Linked DNA regions of Homo sapiens. The gene in region 1 interacts genetically with each later gene. Each region holds a gene or a part of one and is shown in the gene's direction. Other genes may lie near its edges. The genes, in order: PMCH and NPY.

What was found.
Region 2: of PMCH (region 1) and NPY, changing one enhances a phenotype caused by changing the other (phenotypic enhancement), as found in Homo sapiens cells (one study listed by BioGRID).

What each region holds. Positions count from the first base shown.
Region 1 is NC_000012.12:102,194,579-102,204,763, reverse strand, and holds PMCH (pro-MCH preproprotein), read left to right. Parts: upstream 1-6,930; 5' UTR 6,931-6,993; coding exon 6,994-7,242; intron 7,243-7,243; exon of another isoform or gene 7,244-7,592; coding exon 7,593-7,791; coding exon of another isoform or gene 7,792-7,799; exon of another isoform or gene 7,800-8,062; coding exon 8,063-8,112; 3' UTR 8,113-8,305; downstream 8,306-10,185. Other genes in the region: PARPBP (PCNA-interacting partner), read right to left, coding at 8,473-8,813, 9,317-9,452. UniProt on the Homo sapiens protein: MCH may act as a neurotransmitter or neuromodulator in a broad array of neuronal functions directed toward the regulation of goal-directed behavior, such as food intake, and general arousal. May also have a role in spermatocyte differentiation.
Region 2 is NC_000007.14:24,277,776-24,289,167, forward strand, and holds the start of NPY (pro-neuropeptide Y preproprotein), read left to right. Parts: upstream 1-6,414; 5' UTR 6,415-6,500; intron 6,501-7,465; coding exon 7,466-7,653; intron 7,654-11,392. UniProt on the Homo sapiens protein: NPY is implicated in the control of feeding and in secretion of gonadotrophin-release hormone.

The sequences.
Region 1 (10,185 bases):
TGCTAGCCAAATTACCACACCTTGTTCTCTCTTACCCTTGCTCTCCATCCAGATATGAGCCCCTCTAGATATCTATCCTCCCACACTTTCATCTCTAAACAGCACTGTGTTTCTTCTCTCTTCTCTCTCCAATCTTTGTACTATACCTTCTGAATAACAAATACCCTTATAGCGTTCTCCACTTCACTGATCCCATTACCACCACACATACTTAAGAGTTGGGAAGGAGGATGAATGTCTATTTTATTCCATACTGTTTACAGCATGTAAATCCTTTTGTTACTTGAGTCCCACAAATTCAGCATAGCCACTTCTTATCATGCTACAATATCTTCCATCTTTAAATAGCAATAGCCAACTCTCTTCCATCTACAATCTAATTTTTCTGCATTCTTCAGTGTAAATCGGTGACATACTATTTATATTCACTGTTTCCATTTGTTCTCTTTCCATTCTTATTAAATTCTCTCCTATCAAGGTTGAATCTCTACCAGTGTCATTGAAACTGCTTCATTAAGGTCAGCAATGACTATCACATAGCCAAATCAAAGATAAATTCTCAGTTCTCATCTTACTCAACCAGTAGCATTCAGCACAGCCAATCATTGTGCTTTTCTATATTTGAGATGATCGTGTTTTTGTCTCCTGTATTCATTTACAGTGGTGAATTTTACCAATTTTTTTCTGAAAGTTCAATTTTACATTCCTGAAATAAACCTCACCTGGTCATGAAATTTTACCTTTTTCATAACTGGATTCTATTTGATAACATTTTGTTTAGGATTTTTACATCCATGTTCATTAGAAATATTGGCCTATAATTTTCCCTTCTTGTAATAGCATTATCAGGTCTTGGTACCAAATTTATGCTAGACTCATAAAAAGAGTTGGGAAGTGTCCGTCAGAAGTCAATCACAGAAGCAGAACAACACACATACATATTCACATATACAGAAATATATACACAATTTGTTACATAAATCTGTCTCATGCAATTGTGAAAGCTAATTAAGCAATATTAAGCAGATCATTCCATCTAATGCTGGAGTCCACAGGGCAGGCTGCCAGGAAGGAAAGATGGATGTAAAGTAGGGAAGAAGAAGAACATACTGGAATTCACCAGCATGAGCTGAAACCCATGAGGATAGACTGAAACTCATATCATATCTTGCTGCATCTGACCTCAATGGTATGGATGTCCTCAGGACAGCTAGTCTCCTTTGTCACAGAACTGCACACATGTGTCCCAGGAGTCAGAGAAACTGAAAGTGGATCCAGCGAAAGTGGAGCAGTCGCAGGTCTGACTGCTGCAGAGCCAACGACATGAGCCAGCAGATAAGCGACATCATGTGTGAACCGTACGTGACATCTGCTTCACTTCTGCTCTCCAATCTTATACAGGAATGTCTCATGTGGCCCACTCCAGTTGGAAACATAGATAAAGAGAAGAAAATTCTGGGGTTGGGGGGAATTTCTGGGGTGGGAGGAATATATATGTAATATATATAACTCTTACAACTCAGTAATAAAAAGAAACATCCCTCGCCCAACAAAATGAACAAAAGATCTAAACAGACACTTCACAAAAGAAAATATATGAATAGCTAACAAGCACATGAAAAAGTGCTCAACATCATTAGTTATTAGGAAAATGTAATTAAAACACGATATCACTACTCATCTACCAGAATGGCTAAGATTAAGACTGACAACATCAAATGCTGGTGAGGATGTGGAGCAACCAAAGCTCTAATACAGTCTTTGTTGAAGTATAAAATGGTACAATCACTTTGGAAAATAATCTAACAATTTCTTACAAAATTAAAGATACATCTATCTTATATCCTAGCAATTCCATTCCTATATATTTACCCAAGAGAAATAAAAACACATGTCCACAAAAAGACTTGTGCAAGAATGTAGATAGTGTTATTCGTAATAGCCAAAAACTGGATACAATTCAAGAGTCCATTAACAGGAAAAGAGACAAGTCAATTGTAGTATATTTATACAACGGTAATAAAAAAGGAAGGAACTACTGCTTCTTACAACATTAAAGATGAATGTCAAACATGCTGAGTGAAAGAGGCCTTCCATAAAAGACGTCATACTGTATATTTCCAAAATAGGCAAAACTAATTCACAGCAGAAGAAATTAGAACAGTGATTGTCTAAGAGCAGAGTTGGAATGACGGGTGGGAGTGGGGAAAATGGTGGTACATGTAAACTCTAACAAGGTAAGACATAACTTTCTGGGGTGATGGCAATGTCTTGTATCTTGAAAGGACTTTGGGTTTCATAAGCAAACACATTTGTCAAAAATTAGCAAATATGCACTTATAGTTTATGCATTTTACTTTCCATAAATTTTACTTCAAAAAAAAGCTGTAAACAACTATTAAATTCCAGTTAATGATACGTATGTTGAAGTATTTCATGAAAAGCATACTGATATATGCAATATCCTTTGAAATGCATTAAAAGAATAAGATGATTAATAAAGGGATGAAGGGATAGAAGTAAAACGTTAATGGTAAACGCTAGGTGAAAGTGTATGGGTTGTTTACTATAGAAATCTGAGAAGGAATTTTAAGTTTTCTTATATCTTTTGATAATTTATATAAGTGAGCAATCTTGTTTTTACACTCATACAATTAGCCACTAAGAAATTGATGATTCTCAGTAAGCCAATGGCCAATTGCCATTTAATTTACTGGTGACACATAGCAAAGATGTGTTAATTGGAACAAAGAGAAATTTAATAAAGTGACTTGCAAATATACAGTGTTAGCAGTAGTTCAACAGAAAATGAAGATCATATTTTATATAAGCCTTTTGCCTTTGTAAGGTTTACTGAACCACCCAAGCCCATCTGGCAATAGTTTTACTTCTCCAAAGTTCCCTTCTACTACTTGGGGACATACCATTTTCAGCATCAATGAAAAAGAAGTCTACTATGCTCCACTGCACATCACAGTAACCAAAGTTTTTTTTAAAAAAAGTTATCATTAAAAAAATTGGAAACTATCTCCATAATTAAATGGTTATGGCAAAACCTCATAATGCTCAGAGGCTATGACAGTTTAAACAAAATAAAACATTAACTTCTCTAAACCGTCAAAATCATTTGGATTTGGTCCCAATTTTGAGTGAAGATCAGCCAAGCCAATTCATCCAGTGGAAATTTAAAACAAAGTACATAATTATTAATATTTATTACCCTCCCACAACAGCATCTAAGAAAAAAGATTTCCATTAACAAGGACTTTTTTTTTTTTTTTTTTTTTTTTTTCCAGACAGAGTCTCGCTCTGTCGCCTGGGCTGGAGTGCAATGGCACCATGTTTGGTTCACTGCAACCTCCGTCTCCTGGGTTCAAGCAATTCTCCTGCCTCAGCCTCTCCAGTAGCTGGAATTACAGGCACCCACCACCATGCCCAGCTAATTTTTATATTTTTAGTAGAGATGGGGTTTCACCATGTTGGCCAGGCTGGTCACAAACTCCTGACCTCAGGTGATCCACCCACCTCGGCCTCCCATGGTGCTGGGGTTACAGGCGTGAGCCACCGTGCCCAGCCTAACAAGGACTTTTATAGATTAAACAGGCACATCCAAACCAGGTTCAAACCAAGGGAAACAAAGTAGGGCACAACTAACAACATTAAAAAGATAAGGAAGCTCTAAGATCAAAGAAGTCAAGGGATGTCAGAGTCCTTTGTTTATAATTATAATCACAAAACATTTACTGAGAAAGATCTTAATAGTCCCCGAGAAAATCAGCAGTTAAGTCTACCTCAGATAAAAAGTACTTAAGTGAAATGGACAAATTATACAATAATGTAAATTCCTAAAACAAACTAAAAAAGAAACAGAGAAGCTAAATGTTACTACAGCTACTGAAGAAAGTACATCAATTCTTAACAACAAAAATCCTACCAAGAAAACACCAAACCCAAAGTCTAACAAGAGAGAAAAGAAAGAAGGATAAATCTTGCCCTCAATGTAAGAAATTGGTACAAACTTAATATCAAACCAAAGTCAATATAAAAAAGGAAAATTACAAATCAATCTTACTCATAATAAATGTAAAATGTACTAAATCAAATATTGCCAAATTGAATCCGATAATTTAAAGGTTTCTTCATGAACACATGGTTAGTTTAACATTAGAAAAATCTGTTAATATTTCCAAAGACTGAAGGAGAAAATGATCTGGTCATCTCAATATATGCAAAAAAAGCATTCAATAATATTCAACAACAATTCATGATAAAAACTATTAGTAAGCCAGAAACAAAAGAGAACATCCTGTACTTTATAGCAAGTATCTATAAGAAACCTACAGCAAACATTACGCTCAGTGGTGAAGCATTAAAATCATTATCTGTAAAATCAGTAACACTGTAAAGATATCTCTTCTCTCCATTTTCAGTATTTACTGGAGGCTTTGGCCAGTGTGTATGAACACATGAACAGACACAAAGACATGTATACACAATATAGATGAAGTTAGGAGAAAGAGATAAAATGCCATTATTTTATCATTTATATCAATTGTCTTCATACAAAATCCCAAAGAATCTATACATTTATAAACAATTAAAAAGAAAAAAAAATAAGAGTTTAGAAAGTTTTTTTCTGTTATCAAATTACTATGCACAAGCCAAATGCACATGCACATACCAGCAATAATGTTAGAAAGATCATTTCAAAATACAATTTATAATAACCAAAAATAAGAAATTCAATTAAATTATAAAGAATTATAATTCTCTCAACAAAGGTATGCAAGACCTTTATGAAGAAAAGAAAATGTCATTAAAAGATTAAAGAAGAAAAAAAGATTAAAGAAGATCTAAGCAAATACAGAAAAATGTCATGCTCATAGATAATAAATTACCTTCAGGATATCAGTTCTTCTCCAAAATTAATCTATAAATCTATAAAACCAATGTGATTATAAGTTGAGCATCCCAAATCTGAAAAGCCAAAATCCAAAAATGCTCCAAAATCTGAAACTTGTTAAGCATTAACAATATGCTAAAAAATATATATTCATTGAAGCATTTCAGATTTCAGATTTTGGGATACTTAACTGATATAATGCAAATGTTCCAAATTCTGAAAAAAATATCCCAAATCCAAAAATACTTCTGGTCCTAAGCATTTCAGATAAGGGATACCTAACTAGAACCTTAATATCCTGTCAAGTGTTCTTACGGAACTTGAAAAGCTGATTTTAAGATTTATATGGAAAAGAAATGACTAAGAATAGCTAAGGAACTGCTGTAAAAGAAAAACATGTGGGTAAGTAGAGGGCTGGGAAATTTGACCAGATATTAAAAATTATTTTAAAGTTATATTAATACTGTAGATTTGGCTGTGGAATAGAACGTTCTGAAAGGAGCCCACACATATATAGAAATCTGATATACTGTAGAGATGGCACTGCAGATTAGTGGGGACAGGATGACTTCTTCAAGAAATATATAAGGACATTGGAAAAAGTAAAATTACATCTCTATCTTATATCATACACAAAATTACAGATGAATTACAAACCTAAACATGAAAGTCAAAATATTTAAACTTTTAGAAGAAAATATATGAAAACACGTTAATAATCTAAGGATTGAGAAGGATTTCTAAAAAAAAACAACACATTAAAAGTAGTTGCCATAAAGAAAAAAGAAAAATATTTAAACATTAAAATTAATCAGTTTGGTTCACCAAAAGACACCAGAGGGGTTGAAAATATGTCACAAACTGAGCGAAAATAATTGAAACATATATAACTAACAATTAATATCCAGAATATATAAAGAACTCCCATAAATAAATTAGAAAAAGACAACCCAATAGAAAAATGGACAAAGCCAAAAAAGAAAAAAAAAAAAAGCATTTAACATAAGAGGAAACATAAATGGCTCAGAAACATATGGGAAGACACTTAACCTCTTTGGTAATTAGGAAAATACAAATTAAAAGGACAATGAGACACAAGAGTCAGCTAGGACATGGAACAATGGAAATTCTCATACCCTGCTTATCGAGGGCACAAATCGCTTACAACTATGTTGGAAAACATTTTGGCATTAGTAAAGCTGAACATATACATACTCCATGATCCAGTAATTCCATACTGAGAAATATACTCTAGAAAAATTCTTACATATATGTACCAGAAGACATATAAAAGAATGTATTATCTTATTCATTGGGGTCAAAATTAGAAATTAACTCTGAAATGTTTAATTAAAAGTCATACAACATAAACTCATCATCCAAAAGTAATGTTTATGGGCACATAAATATTCTTTTCATGGACTAATTCATTAATTTCTAAATTCATTAATAAATATTTGTACATATTATCCTTTTGTAAATGCAGAGATAAAATACACCTGACAGGTCAATTTTTGATATAGCATGAATGGCTTTTTGTTCACACTGACAGGCATATGTACTTTAATCACCAAAAACTATATCAAGTATTTATAAAAGAAAGTCTCTTTTGAGGATTATTTCAGTTTAATCAGGATTAAAAGGAAATAAAACTTTATCCTTATCATCCTTGAGTGAAATAACTTGAGTTTTAATATCTTTACTTAATCAGAAAATACACAAAAGGAAACAATAATATAGAGAGAGCCTGATGTCCTGTGGTCTTCCTTAATAACAACCCATTTTCAAGAGACTATAATCTACTCAACAGAAAGCATTCTACCAAGGATCTTAGTCAGATTCTGAGAAAATTCACACTCAAAATAAACAATGTGTCACTAAAACCAAAACAATGTAGGTATTAGCAGCTGCATAAAGGTTAGCCTCAATCTAATGAGTCATTTCTAAAATGATGAAAAGTATAATTCTTTGAAGTGCTTTCTATTCAAGCTAGAAAATATATAAAGATACAGAATCGTTTACCAAGCAGGCTGACAGAGAAATTTTTCATTTTCTTTCTTGTTTGACTGTATGCAAACATCAAACTAAGAATGGCAAAAATGAATCTCTCTTCCTATATATTAATACTAACTTTTTCTTTGTTTTCTCAAGGTATTTTACTTTCAGCATCCAAGTCCATAAGAAATTTAGATGATGACATGGTATTTAATACATTCAGGTTGGGGAAAGGCTTTCAGAAGGAAGACACTGCAGAAAAATCAGTTATTGCTCCTTCCCTGGAACAATATAAAAATGATGAGAGCAGTTTCATGAACGAAGAGGAAAATAAAGTTTCAAAGGTAAGTGGCAATGTGACTTGTCGTTTATTTCAATGAAAATTTAAATGATTCTTACAAATCCTCTGAAAAGTAAAACTGATACTTTTATAAACAGAAGTATATGCAAACAGTCACAATATGCATTAGGACGACTGACGATATTTCTTACATGCCAGGTAGTTCTTCCATCCCAGCAAACACCTCTTATCTGAAAGTGTTTTTTCTCCTATAAATTTGCATCTAAGGTATTTTTAAAAAGTCAAAAACAGTGCAGAGTAACTTTGAATTGATCAACAAGAATATTATACAATTGTATTATAGTTCCACTCCGAATACGATAGCTAAAAACCAAATCAACCTTCTCTTTACAGAACACAGGCTCCAAACATAATTTCTTAAATCATGGTCTGCCACTGAATCTGGCTATAAAACCTTATCTTGCACTAAAAGGATCTGTAGCTTTCCCAGCTGAGAATGGAGTTCAGAATACTGAATCAACACAAGAAAAGAGAGAAATTGGGGATGAAGAAAACTCAGCTAAATTTCCTATAGGAAGGAGAGATTTTGACAGTGAGTAGTCTTTTCAAAATTCAATTCTTACATCCTACCACCATTAAACAGAACTCTGAGTTAAAGTGAATTTGGATGCAATCATAACAAAATCAAATAAGACCATGGCTCAATTACACCTGCCAAAAATGTGGGATTAAATAGCAACAATTAATTATTATCATTTTGGTTTACTCAGAATTAGTTATACTAGATCCATTCTTTTTTTCTTAATAAATTTTGTGTGATAATTATAGTCCTTTAAACAATTTAAACTTTCTTCTTCCTTCAGTGCTCAGATGTATGCTGGGAAGAGTCTACCGACCTTGTTGGCAAGTCTGATACCTGTTGGTCCACATCATCTTTTCAGAAGAAAATAAAAGCATTTAATTGCCAATGGGAGGAGAAGCCCATACTGCTACTATAACTTGTGTATGTTAAATGTCTGTTTTAAAAGAAAGTAGTGTTAAGATGTATCAGTAACTGAAATGATATGCTTTCTCTGTGCATTAAACTTTGTGAAAATTCTGCATAATTATGACTTACTAGTATTTTTAAACAATGCTTAACATACTAACCTTACATACACTGTAGACCAAAATAATAAATCATCATAATTTACACCTTGATCTCTTAAAAATTAAGCATGTCTTTGGTGAATGGTTTATAGATACATAAACCTAAAGCATATAAGACACAAATTTATAGTCTAAAAAACTGAGTTAACTTTGCCTGGCCAGAAATCAACTTGTCCTTGGCAGTACATTTATTACTTTTTGCTACTTTAGCTAGTTTGCCGTACAATCTATTCTGTGAATCATTTGATTTCTTAGGTATTTTAGCATTTTTATGTTGAGGTGGTTCATTTCTATTATCACAGAGAATATTTTCACCATCCAAATCCACCTGTTTCCTTTTTGAGCTTTTATTTCCTGTCTGACTGGTTGATTTTCTTGATACTTTTTCATTTTTACTTCTGTCCAGATGAACATTTCCAAAACTCGTTCCAATTGTTGATCTTCCAACAGATGGATTTACACCCTCTGTTATGCAAGATAAAAAGGGGAAAGGAATTACATGATATTGAGTATTAATATTTACGAGAACTTTACAATAAACTTTAAAAATGGCTAACGAATATTCAAATTTTTAAAGTAAAATAATGCTATAAATAATATGATTGACAAATATAGCTACATTACTATCCTATTACTTTTCATTTTATCATAGCACCTCTGAGTTAGCTTTGGCCAGTAATCAACTTGTCAGCCCTATTAAGAAATATTTGTTTGAATGCATGACATTTAATCCTTAAACATATGCTACAAATTACTTCTTAAATACATTTAGTTAAATCAAACTGTGTCCTATTCCTATCGATAAATTTGTACTTAGATTTAACTTTTTAAATAAACTGAGGTCTTTAAAAATATTACCCTTTACATTTCATAGTACTTTGCAAAAATAACCTAATTTTACTTAAGTTAAAACTAATTAGTAGACTAGAATTAAATTGTTATTTAATTGCACAAATAAGGTCAATTACCAGAAAGGTCATTTTCCATGTAAAGAACACACAAAGGCTTTGATGCTAAATTAACATTATTCCAATTATCCTTGCTTATCATGTAGTCATCTTTATAAGTACAAGCAAATTGGGATCTAATTAAAGTTTGCTTCATCTAGTAACAGAAAGAAAGAAGAAAATATGCAAATTTATTCATTATTTTATTTCTTCATCTAGATAGACACACACTCTATAGTAATCAAGGTATAAAAATTTCCCTTAGAAATTCTATTACTCATTGAGAACCTCTCTCTAACCTTTTATATTTCATAGTTTGCAAACTCATTCATTGTTATGGCTAGCATTTTTGTTCTTTTCCAAAATAATAGCTTTATGTATATTTTTGATTTTTTTTTTGGTAACAGTTACAAAACAATCAATTTTAGACTCTTCGCAGGGCTTTGTTACATGTTCCTGTGTCAGCACTGCTTTGGAGCGTCTTATTGTAAGTAAAATAACAATACAGGTGATATACATAATCATAGAAAAATACAAGTTCTTCATCCTAAGAAGAACACACTCTTGGAAAAAAAATAGCATATGGAATTCAAGAAATTAGGGAGGGAAGAAATGCTAAGATGAAAAAAAGAACTAAGTGAGGTCAATCAAAAACAGGAAACTAGCAAAGAAACTGCAAGATAAAACAAAATGATATAGGAAAGACATTATTTCTCGAGTATTTAGGAAAACAAGAAAGATGATTCAATGTATCAGTCTAGAAAGATTTGACCAAGTGACTTAATGGTCAGAAATCCAAAGTATACTCTTGCATTTATCTTCAAACATCAAATAGGAGGGCCTAACTTTCTACATAAATAGGAGAAAATTACAAAGATGAACTCAATTCT
Region 2 (11,392 bases), on another chromosome or scaffold:
CTACTGAAGCTTGTGCATGCATCACGTAGTTCTCTTGCCATGGTTTTCAGCTTCCTCAGGTCATTTAAGGGCTTCCCTACACTGTTTATTTTAGTTAGCCATTCATCTAATCTGTTTTCAAGGTTTTTAGCTCCCTTGCAATGGGTTCGAACATCCTCCTTTAGCTCAGAGAAGTTTGTTATTACTGACTTTCTGAAGGCTACTTCTGTCAACTTGTCAAAGTCATTCTCTGTCCAGCTTTGTTCCATTGCTGGTGAAGAGCTGCAATCCTTTGGAGGAGAAGGGGCGCACTGGTTTTTAGAATTTTTAGCTTTTCTGCTCCAGTTTCTCCTGATCTTTGTGGTTTTATCTACCTTTGGTCTGTGATGGTGGTGACCTACAGATGGGGTTTTGGTGTGGATGTCCTTTTTGTTGATGTTGATGTTATTCCTTTCTGTTTGTTAGTTTTCCTTCTAACAGTCAGGTCTCTCAGCTGCAGGTCTGTTGGAGTTTGCTGGCAGTCCACTCCAGACCCTGTTTGCCTGGGTATCACCAGTGGAGGCTGCAGAACAGCAAATATTGCTGCCTGATCCTTCCTCTGGAAGCTTCGTCTCAGAGGGGCACCCGGCTGTATGAGTTGTCAGTTGGTCCCTACTGGGAGGTATCTCCAAGTTAGGCTACACAGGGGTCAGGGACCCCCTTGAGGAGGCAGTCTGTCCATTCTCAGAGCTCAAAAACCATGCTGGGAGAACCACTGCTCTCTCCTGAGCTATCAGACAGGTACGTTTAAGTCTGCAGAACTTTCTGCTGCCTTTTGTTCAGCTATGCCCTGCCCCCAGAGGTGGAGTCTACAGAGGCAGGCGGGCTTCATTGGGCTGTGGTGGGCTCCGCTCAGTTCGAACTTCCTGGCAGCTTTGTTTACCTACTCAAGCCTCAGCAATGGCAGATGCCCCTCCCCCAGCCAGGCTTGCCACCTTGTAGTTCGATATCAGACTGCTGTGCTAGCAGTGAGCAAAGCTCTGTGGGCATGGGACCTGCTGAGCCATGTGTGGGATATAATTTCCTGGTGTGCTGTTTGCTAAAACCGTGGGAACAGCACAGTATTTAGGTGGCAGTGTCCCAATTTTCCCGGTACAGTCAGTCATGGCTTCCCTTGGCTAGGAAAGGGAAATCCCCTGACTCCTTGCACTTCCTGGGTGAGGCGATGCCCACCCCTGCTTTGACTTGCCCTCCGTGGGCTGCACTCTTTGTCCGCCCAGTCCCAGTGAGATGAACCAGGTACCTCAGTTGGAAATGCAGAAATCACCCATCTTCTGCGTCGATCAGCTGGGAGGTGCAGACCAGAGCTGTTCCTATTTGGCCTCTTGGAACGGACCTAAAGAACACTCAGAAAATATTTCAAGGTAAACCCAGAAGGTTGTGTAGGTGTTGGCCAGGTAAAGAGTAGGGAGAGAGAATATCTCAGAGAGCAGACACAGCACAATGAAGGCCCAAATAGGAAAGCTGATTGGCATATTTAAGGAGCAGAAAGGAGGACAATGGACAGAAATACAGGGAGTGAAGAAAAAAATTATGTTAGATGAGCCTAGGAGGTATGTAGGGTCCAAAATATGTGGGGCCTTATAGTTCAATGGAAGAATTTTGAAAACATTTTACACTTCATATGATATTTAATTAGACATTCATGTTAGTGGAAGCTCCACTTTGATAATCTAAATTTGAGGCCCTTGATGGAGTTTTTCTGAGCTAGACGTATCGCCCTGGTTTCCAGGTATGAAATCTGAGCTGAAGGGAGAGATTTCAGGATCATAAGCTGTAGGAGTAGATGAGCTTATGTGTGCAGTAGAAAGGTTAAGGCTAAGACTATGGGTACAGAAGGGTGAGTCAGCAAAGGAGATGGTGGTACATTCAGAGAAAAAGGAGGTGAATCAGAGAGACAAGAGAAAGTAATGGTTAAGAGATGTCAAATATCTGATAAAGATCCATGTGGTTTGCAATTAGAAGGTCTTACTGATAGCAGGTTTATAACTTGATTCAGATAGAACCTAGATCACAGTGGTTTCATGACTACACCTATGGTGAATAACCAGAGACAATGAATAGAAACATCTTTTTAAAGAAGCCTTGCTACAAGACTTGCTCTTCTGGCCAAGATGAAGAAACAGGAACTGGATTTACCCTCCCTGCTGAAACAACTAAAACACTAGACAAAAATAGATGAAACAACACTTAAAACATTGGACATCAGTAAAGGACAGTAATATCTTAGAGATAGAAAACAAATGACAAGAGCCATACAATGGTCCCAGATCACTGCCTGATATGGTTTGGCTGTGTCCTCACCCAAATCCCATCTTGAATTGTAGTTTCCTTAATCCCCACGTGTTGTGGGAGGGACCTGGTGTGAGATAATTGAATCATGGGGGCAGTTACCTACATGCTGCTGTTCTCATGATAGTGAGTGAATTCTCACAAGATCTGATGGTTTTATAAAAGGTTTTTTCCCCTTTGCTCGCCACTTCTCTCTCCAGCTGCAATATGAAGAAGGACGTGTTTGCTTCCCCTTCCACCATAATTGTAAGTTTCCTGAGGGCTCTCCAGCCATACAGAACTGTGAGTCAATTAAACCTCTTTCCTTTATAAATTACCCAGTCTTGGATATTTCTTCATAGCAGCATGAGAATACACTGCCTGAAGGAGTCATCCAGGCTACAGTGCAGAAGGAAGGAATTGAATCATCCTGGCCAAGGAGCTGGGGCTGGAAGTGTAGGGAGCCAGGGCAGCTAGTGTCCACAGGAAGATTATCAGGTAAAAGAAAGAATACTCTGAAAGTCTGAAGGGTGTCCCCCTTGAGGATTTAGTTGATTATTGATCAGATTATACACAAGAACAAACCACCTGAGACCAGGAAAAGAACTACACAAAAAGATAAGGGTAAACTGTGTCTGATGCTGACCAAGGGCTGGGAATAGTGTCTATCTGAACAGCCAGAGGGGAGAGCTGTGCAATTTGAGGTGTGCGTGTTGGGGGGAAGTCAGTTACCAGTTAAAGTAAAAAGAAGGAATTTTGCCTCAAAGTGTGGAAAGAGTAAACCTAGTCTAAAACCAGCTCTGGTCCCACCTAACAAAACTCACATCCAAGACCTGAATGGATAAAACTGTCTTTAAATTTTTAATTGTCTCAGAACAAGCTCAAGAACAGTCATAGAAAGACAAAAAAACAAATAACAAGGTAAAATCCACAATATCTGACATCCTATCAAAAATTATCAGGCACACAAAGAAGAAGAAAAATATAAGCCATAATGTGGAGAAAAATCAATCAACCCAAAGTATACAAAAATCACACAGATGTTAGTAGTACAAAAGTTATTATTAATGTATATTCAAGAAGCTAGAGAGAAGAGTGGACACGTTTAGATACGGAAGATATAAAAAAGATTCATTGCTTTATATTGTCCTGTAACTTAAAAAAAAGATTCAAGTTGAAACTCTAGAGATGAAAGCTACCAGGTATAAGGTGCAAAATACACTGGATAGGATTGGCAGTAATCAGATATTACAGAAGAAAACATTAGTGAACTCACAGACATAGCAATAGAGACTATCCAAAATAAAATATGAAGGAAAAAATGAGCAAAACAGAAGCAAAAACAGATCACCAACAAACTGTGGGCCAATATACACTCACCGTCTGACTCAGCCATTCTGGTTTTAAGTATTTTCCAAGAGAATTAAAGGCTTTATGTCCATACAAAGACTTGCATATGAATGTCAAGGCAGCTTTATTCGTAAAAGTTTCAAGTGAAAATAACCAAAAATTCATGAGCAGTAGAATTGATTAAAAATTTTGAAGTATATCATATAATGAAATACTGCCCAGCAATAAAAAAGAATAAACTATTGCTACATTTAACAATGTGAGTGGATTCAAAAATAATGATGCTAAGTGAAAGAAGTCAGACAAAGAGTACCTACCGTGGAACTATATTTATGTGCAATTCTAGAAAACGCAAACAAATCTCTAGTGATAGCAGATCAATGGAGGAGGGGGTGAGGAAGAGGCAAAAGGAAGGAATTACAAAGGTACATGTGGAAATTTGGGGAAGTGATGTATAATCTTCATTTTCTTGGTTTCAGTGATGGCTTCCTGAGCATATAACACACATGCATATGTGTAAGAATATATCCAATTGAATATTTTACACATTTGTAGCTTTGTATATATTCAGCAGTATCTATTCATTCCTTCTGCTTCTTTACCTTAGGTTTAGTCATGAAACCACTGGGTTTCATGTGGTCCAGGTTCTATCTGAATCAAGCTATGAACCTGCTATCAGTAAGACCTCCTAATTGCAAACCACATGGACCTTTACCGGTTATTTGACTTCTCTCGGTCATTACCTTCTCTAGTCTCCACTGATTCACCTCCTTTTGAATCTCAACAAGCTCAACAGTATCTCAATGTTATCTTAACAAAGCTGTTAGAAATAAACAACTTGACTTTGAAACAAAGGAGAGAAATGGCTCAGCAGCTAGGAGAAGATGCAGGGTTGAGTTGCCAACAGTTGGTTTTGTTTGTATTTTGGCCAGGGGATGTGGCTTGGACTGGAGAGAAAGGAGATAAGGATGTAAGCACATGTAGGGCATATCACCCCCTATTTTTTATTCTCTGAATCCTTAACCCTCAGAATAAGTTCTTATTCTTGAGAATCAATGACATTATCTTAAGCTAAATTAATCAAGCCTCCACAGTGTTCTTCTCTCAATAGTGGTGTGGGCCTTCCTAGAAGTAATTTTTCCCAAATTCAGTGATACATTTTAAGTTCAGATTTTAATTGATATGAATCTGTGATACACTCTAAAATAAGATTATTTTATTGAAAAGTGGACTGTAACTTTCCCTTTATCTAGGAAGAGCTCTAAGTTAGAAGATGTTTTGCACTTTTACCGAAGGCTGTGTCTTGTAAGCACCCCCGAGCAACTCTGAGAGCCTTGATTTTTGTGTCCTCAGCATATGTTTGTGTAATACAGAAAGAGAAGCAGTTGCCAAGTGAAAGGGATGTTGGTCTCCAAAATTATAGTTTGATCCCACAAACACACAAACACATACATGCAAAGGATTGTTTGCTTCACGGTTTTTGATATTTAATTCAATGCTGTTGGAACAGCACAAAAACTAAGTGTCAGTTTAACAGAATCACTTGTCCTTTTAGCATTAAAATAACATGGAACTTAATGCTTTAATTTCCCAACATGCCTTTTTATTTAGAAAGATTCAGACTTATATTTCATTTAGAAATAAAATGCCATTTTATTTAGAAAGATACAGGAGCATTCATTCACGGAACTTTCAGATCTCAGTCCACTGCATAAAATCTTGATCCTGTAATAATAGTTTCTGTATCTTGCATATTCATTCAACAGGTTTAACGCGATGAGCAAATTAATGTTCATCGTTTTTAACATGTTTCATCTTAATCAGAACCCACATTCTCAACGTTAATTGAACGTACATAGGACTATACAAGGGTTAGTAAATAAGACAGAAACTGTTGTTCATTTAACCACCGTCACTTTGGACCAAAAAAGAAAAAATATATATTTTTAAAATTGAGCTTAAAAGAGTCTCTAGAAGCTGGAAGCGTGGCTCTTTTTCAGCAAACTGGGGGAATAGGTTTACCGTGTTCCCCCTCTGGGGAATTTTGAGTCGCCACACTCATGTCTCGACCGAGCCTGGCTCGCTGCGTCTGAGCGAGTACTTGAGGAAGGCTGATCTAGAAAAACCAGCTGAGAGAAGGGGCAGAAGCCCCTGAAACCACGGGCGGGGGTGGGGTGGGGAGCGCAGCTTTGGGACCCTCTAGCCGGAGACTTCCGGCAGCTGCCTCCGACTTGTTCTAAGTACAGGAAAAATCTGTGCGCCCAGTTGCCTCACTCCAACAGCGCGCAGTTGTGCCCGGCGAGGATGCCGCGCTAGTCGTGGAGATGCCCCACCACAAAGAGGATTCAGGTGCTTCCTACTCCGGCACCCAGTGGGTTGGTAGTCCTGTTGGCAGGAGACAAGAATCGTCTGGGCTGCTCCTATCTCTGGCAGGACTAGACGGGGCGTGAAGGAAAGAAGGAAAGAAGGAAAGCAGGGATCGGGCACTGCCCGAGGGCAGATACTTGGGCTTTGGTGTTGTCCAGCGCGCTCGGAGTGCGCTGCCTCGCTCACGCGGTCCCAGGCCCCGCTTCTTCAGGCAGTGCCTGGGGCGGGAGGGTTGGGGTGTGGGTGGCTCCCTAAGTCGACACTCGTGCGGCTGCGGTTCCAGCCCCCTCCCCCCGCCACTCAGGGGCGGGAAGTGGCGGGTGGGAGTCACCCAAGCGTGACTGCCCGAGGCCCCTCCTGCCGCGGCGAGGAAGCTCCATAAAAGCCCTGTCGCGACCCGCTCTCTGCACCCCATCCGCTGGCTCTCACCCCTCGGAGACGCTCGCCCGACAGCATAGTACTTGCCGCCCAGCCACGCCCGCGCGCCAGCCACCGTGAGTGCTACGACCCGTCTGTCTAGGGGTGGGAGCGAACGGGGCGCCCGCGAACTTGCTAGAGACGCAGCCTCCCGCTCTGTGGAGCCCTGGGGCCCTGGGATGATCGCGCTCCACTCCCCAGCGGACTATGCCGGCTCCGCGCCCCGACGCGGACCAGCCCTCTTGGCGGCTAAATTCCACTTGTTCCTCTGCTCCCCTCTGATTGTCCACGGCCCTTCTCCCGGGCCCTTCCCGCTGGGCGGTTCTTCTGAGTTACCTTTTAGCAGATATGGAGGGAGAACCCGGGACCGCTATCCCAAGGCAGCTGGCGGTCTCCCTGCGGGTCGCCGCCTTGAGGCCCAGGAAGCGGTGCGCGGTAGGAAGGTTTCCCCGGCAGCGCCATCGAGTGAGGAATCCCTGGAGCTCTAGAGCCCCGCGCCCTGCCACCTCCCTGGATTCTTGGGCTCCAAATCTCTTTGGAGCAATTCTGGCCCAGGGAGCAATTCTCTTTCCCCTTCCCCACCGCAGTCGTCACCCCGAGGTGATCTCTGCTGTCAGCGTTGATCCCCTGAAGCTAGGCAGACCAGAAGTAACAGAGAAGAAACTTTTCTTCCCAGACAAGAGTTTGGGCAAGAAGGGAGAAAAGTGACCCAGCAGGAAGAACTTCCAATTCGGTTTTGAATGCTAAACTGGCGGGGCCCCCACCTTGCACTCTCGCCGCGCGCTTCTTGGTCCCTGAGACTTCGAACGAAGTTGCGCGAAGTTTTCAGGTGGAGCAGAGGGGCAGGTCCCGACCGGACGGCGCCCGGAGCCCGCAAGGTGGTGCTAGCCACTCCTGGGTTCTCTCTGCGGGACTGGGACGAGAGCGGATTGGGGGTCGCGTGTGGTAGCAGGAGGAGGAGCGCGGGGGGCAGAGGAGGGAGGTGCTGCGCGTGGGTGCTCTGAATCCCCAAGCCCGTCCGTTGAGCCTTCTGTGCCTGCAGATGCTAGGTAACAAGCGACTGGGGCTGTCCGGACTGACCCTCGCCCTGTCCCTGCTCGTGTGCCTGGGTGCGCTGGCCGAGGCGTACCCCTCCAAGCCGGACAACCCGGGCGAGGACGCACCAGCGGAGGACATGGCCAGATACTACTCGGCGCTGCGACACTACATCAACCTCATCACCAGGCAGAGGTGGGTGGGACCGCGGGACCGATTCCGGGAGCGCCAGTGCCTGCACACCAGGAGATCCTGGGGATGTTAGGGAAAGGGATTGTTTCTTTTCCTTCGCTCTATCCCAGGGCAGGACAGTATCAGGCACTTAGTCAGCTCTAGGTAAATGTTTGTACAGGGCACACTCTACACAAAATGGGTACCTTCCATTTTGTGCAACTACAGTCACAGAGTCGTGATCCCCAGATTCAGGTTCCCCAGGCTGGTAGGCTGGCAATCTCCTCTCACTCACCTCTTATGGTTTGTTGTGGTTCTTACGGCAGTGGGGCCCGGTCCAGAAATCTCGAAAGTACCCAGTGAAAGGGGCAAGAATGCGCCAGAGAAATGCTGTAGGGGGAAACGCTAGCAAGGTGTCTAGGAGAAACAGAACGACCACCAAAGAAAACCAAACCAAGGAGTAAACTGCAGGGTTGCCACAGACATTGTCAGACTTTCCGGCCTGCCCAGGGCTAATTGAATGACAGTATTTAGAAAAAGACAAATAGAGCTATTTTCTTTTCTTCTTCACTGTGTTTTTTTTGCAGTCTCACTCCCATATTTGAAAATTCTAGTCCCAATAATTAGAGATTTAGCCTGAAAACAGTTTATCTAAAATGCAGAGGTCTCCCTATTTTATAGCTGGTGAATTCTGAAAAGAAAGTGCCCACTTGGTATTTCATTAAGAAGAAACTTACGTTGGTCCAGTAACTTTAGGATGAATTCAGGGATTACATGGAATCTGAGAAATTGTAAACTTTATTCTGAACATTCCGAAAGTCAAAATGAAATGCCATATTTTCACTCTCAACATTGACAATTAAGGGAAAAATCAAATCCAAACTATTTTACAAATTACATAGGATTTAAATTTTGTTTTCAAAATTGGTTGATCTTAGTTCTAAATCATTTAATATCTTATTTTAATTACTGAGATTAAATGATTTTAGTCATTTGACCGTATCTAAAGGATAAGCCCTTTAGAAGCATTAATGTTAGTTAACATGTTTAAATTATATGTTTAAAGTATTGTGGGGTTTATATATTTATTTATTTAGTCCATATTTTTACTGTTTACAAGTCAGGGAGTAGTTGGAAAGGATCCAAAAGGGGGGAAGATTTATACTTTTAAAATAAAGTTTGCTTTTTCCTGTTTCATCAAAAAGGTATTTAACATCCTAAAACACTTTTGAAAAAGCCCCAATTTATATAGAATCTGAAAAACATGAAAATGCCAGAATTAAATAGTAGTTGTTTGTGATCCCTTGAAATCTGATCATTTTAATTAGCAAAAAGCAATAATATTTTATATTCCATACTTCCCAGAAAGTTAATTGATTCAAATTCTTGCTATGTTATGCCGTCATGCAGATCAAAGAGAACTTGTACAAACAAAAAGATATTAACTGTTTTTTCTAGAAAAACCTTTGTTAGTTATTTAGCTGTAGCATAATACACAGTAGAACTCATTTTTCCGAAGATGATTGCCATAAAGCTTTACCATTTTACAAAGCTCTAGCATTTTAAAATGTTTTCCTAGGCATTCTCTCATTCAGTCGTTACCTCAAAGCTTTGAAGGGAGTATAATTATCTTCATTTCACAAATCATGAAGCTAATGACATTTCATGGAAGCTATTTTTATAGGAATTATGGAATTGGAGCCCTCCTTTGAGTGTCTTTGGATGTTGTCACCACCATCAACAGGCAGTGTTATCTCCAACATGTTTGATGAGAAAAAAACATAAAGGAAAGGGACTTGGGTTTCATGGCAAGAGATTCAGCTTAGATGGGAATGAGCTGGTCTCTGAGGCAGAGTTTCCTGTCTCATCTTTGTATAAACTCCTTCTTAGAAACCAGCAGAGGCTCTTAATGTACGTCCATCTTCTCCTTCCCACCACAGACACCCACTCCTATGTGCGTTTCTGAAAATTACAGGGTCATTTGTGGATGTGCTTTAATTTAGTATAGATATAATCTGATATCATTATCTTTCTTTCCCCCCGCCCCCCGCCACCAGCATTCCCCCTGCACTCAATTTGTGCTTATATTCCTTTTGCTGTATATATACCCCTGGCTCATTGCTTCTGGAAGCTGCATTACTTATTCTAGAGTGTGGGTCTCCTACAATTTATTTATATAGCCCCCTAAATCAGTGGTTCTCAACTGGGGGTGATTTTATGCTCCCCAGGTGTGATTTGGCAGTGTCTGGAGACATTTTTGGTTTTCACAACTGGAGGTGGGCACTGCTGGTACCTAGGTGTATAGATGCCAAGGAGGCTGCTAAATATCCTACCATGCCCAGGACAGCCCCCATTACACAGAATAGCCAGTCCCAGAGAAACTCAGCCTTAGATTAGTGTTTCTCCTTCCTGGCTGCACATTAAAATTATCAGGGGAGCTTTTAAAATACACTGATGCTGGGATCCACCCCTGACCAATTAAATCAGACCCTCTGGGATGGGGCCTGGGCTTTAGAGTGTGTTTTTAACACTCCCCAGGTGATTCTAATGTGCAGCCAGGTTTGAGAATCTTTACTCTAAGGACTCAATCTTTGAAAGTTACAGCATTGTAGAGGGGAAGGATGATCCAGAATTAATTAAAGAAGGAAGAAGAGTGAACAGTACTGAACTGGATGCAAGATTATGACTGTGCAAATCCTCCTATTTCAGATTTAGGTTCTTTACTGGTAAATTGGATAAAAAGTTGGCAGTTCTTTTACTCACTGGAGCATGATGAAGATAAATGAGTTACAGTTGCCCTAGACTTTTACGATTAGTAAAACCAATGGATGGACAGAATAAATAAGTATAAGCAGACACCTATAGTCTAATATCGCAACTCCAGAAAATCTTTGAGAAAATCTCACACATGATGGGAGTGGGACAGGGAGTTGTTTTGTTTTTGCTTCCCTTGAGTCTCAGCAAAAGAACAGTCATAGAAAATATTTCCAAAAAATTTAGATATAATTTTGCTTGGCAATTAGAATATACCCTCTGTCAGCTTTGTTCAGTTGTTGGACCTATTAACCAATCCATACCAGACTAATTTATTTCTAAACAAAGTGGCGAATGGTGTCCAATGCCTTTTCTGAGAAAGAGAAAAATGGCCTCTTCAAAAGACGCAATTTGGTATAGACTTGTCTGGCCGTTTTGTAGTGTTCTGGAGTGGGGAGCATATACTACCCTCACAGGTAAACGAAACCTTACCTGTATGTATTGTCTCACCCATATCCTGCTACAGGAGAAAAAAAAAAAAAAAAAAAAAAGAACATTTCCATGGATCAGTTAGATTCCTTTAGACTTACAGGGAGGCTAAAATCACAGCATTAGGAAAGACTTTAGCATTTGGCACCTTGAATGAATATGGAAAATATAAGACCCAGGGTCTGTTGGTAGCCAGAAGAATGGATGCATTTCAACAGCAGTAATTTGCATGCGTGTATCACTTTGTCACTTTGAAAGCATTGTGACTCACATTTCACACTGGATGTTCACAAAGACTCTGATTTAAGCAGGGGTTGTTTTACAAACGAGAAAATTGGGATTCAAAGACACAGGTGGGTCTTGGACGGCAATCTGCTGATTTTTTTTTTCTAGGACTGTCTTTGAAATATCATCTGGTCTCCTTGTTAAGATTTAAACTGCTGTGTATCATCAGAACAATAGCCAATTAACTAATTGTGGAAACATTTACAATCATGCTTCCATGTTTTCAAATTTCCTG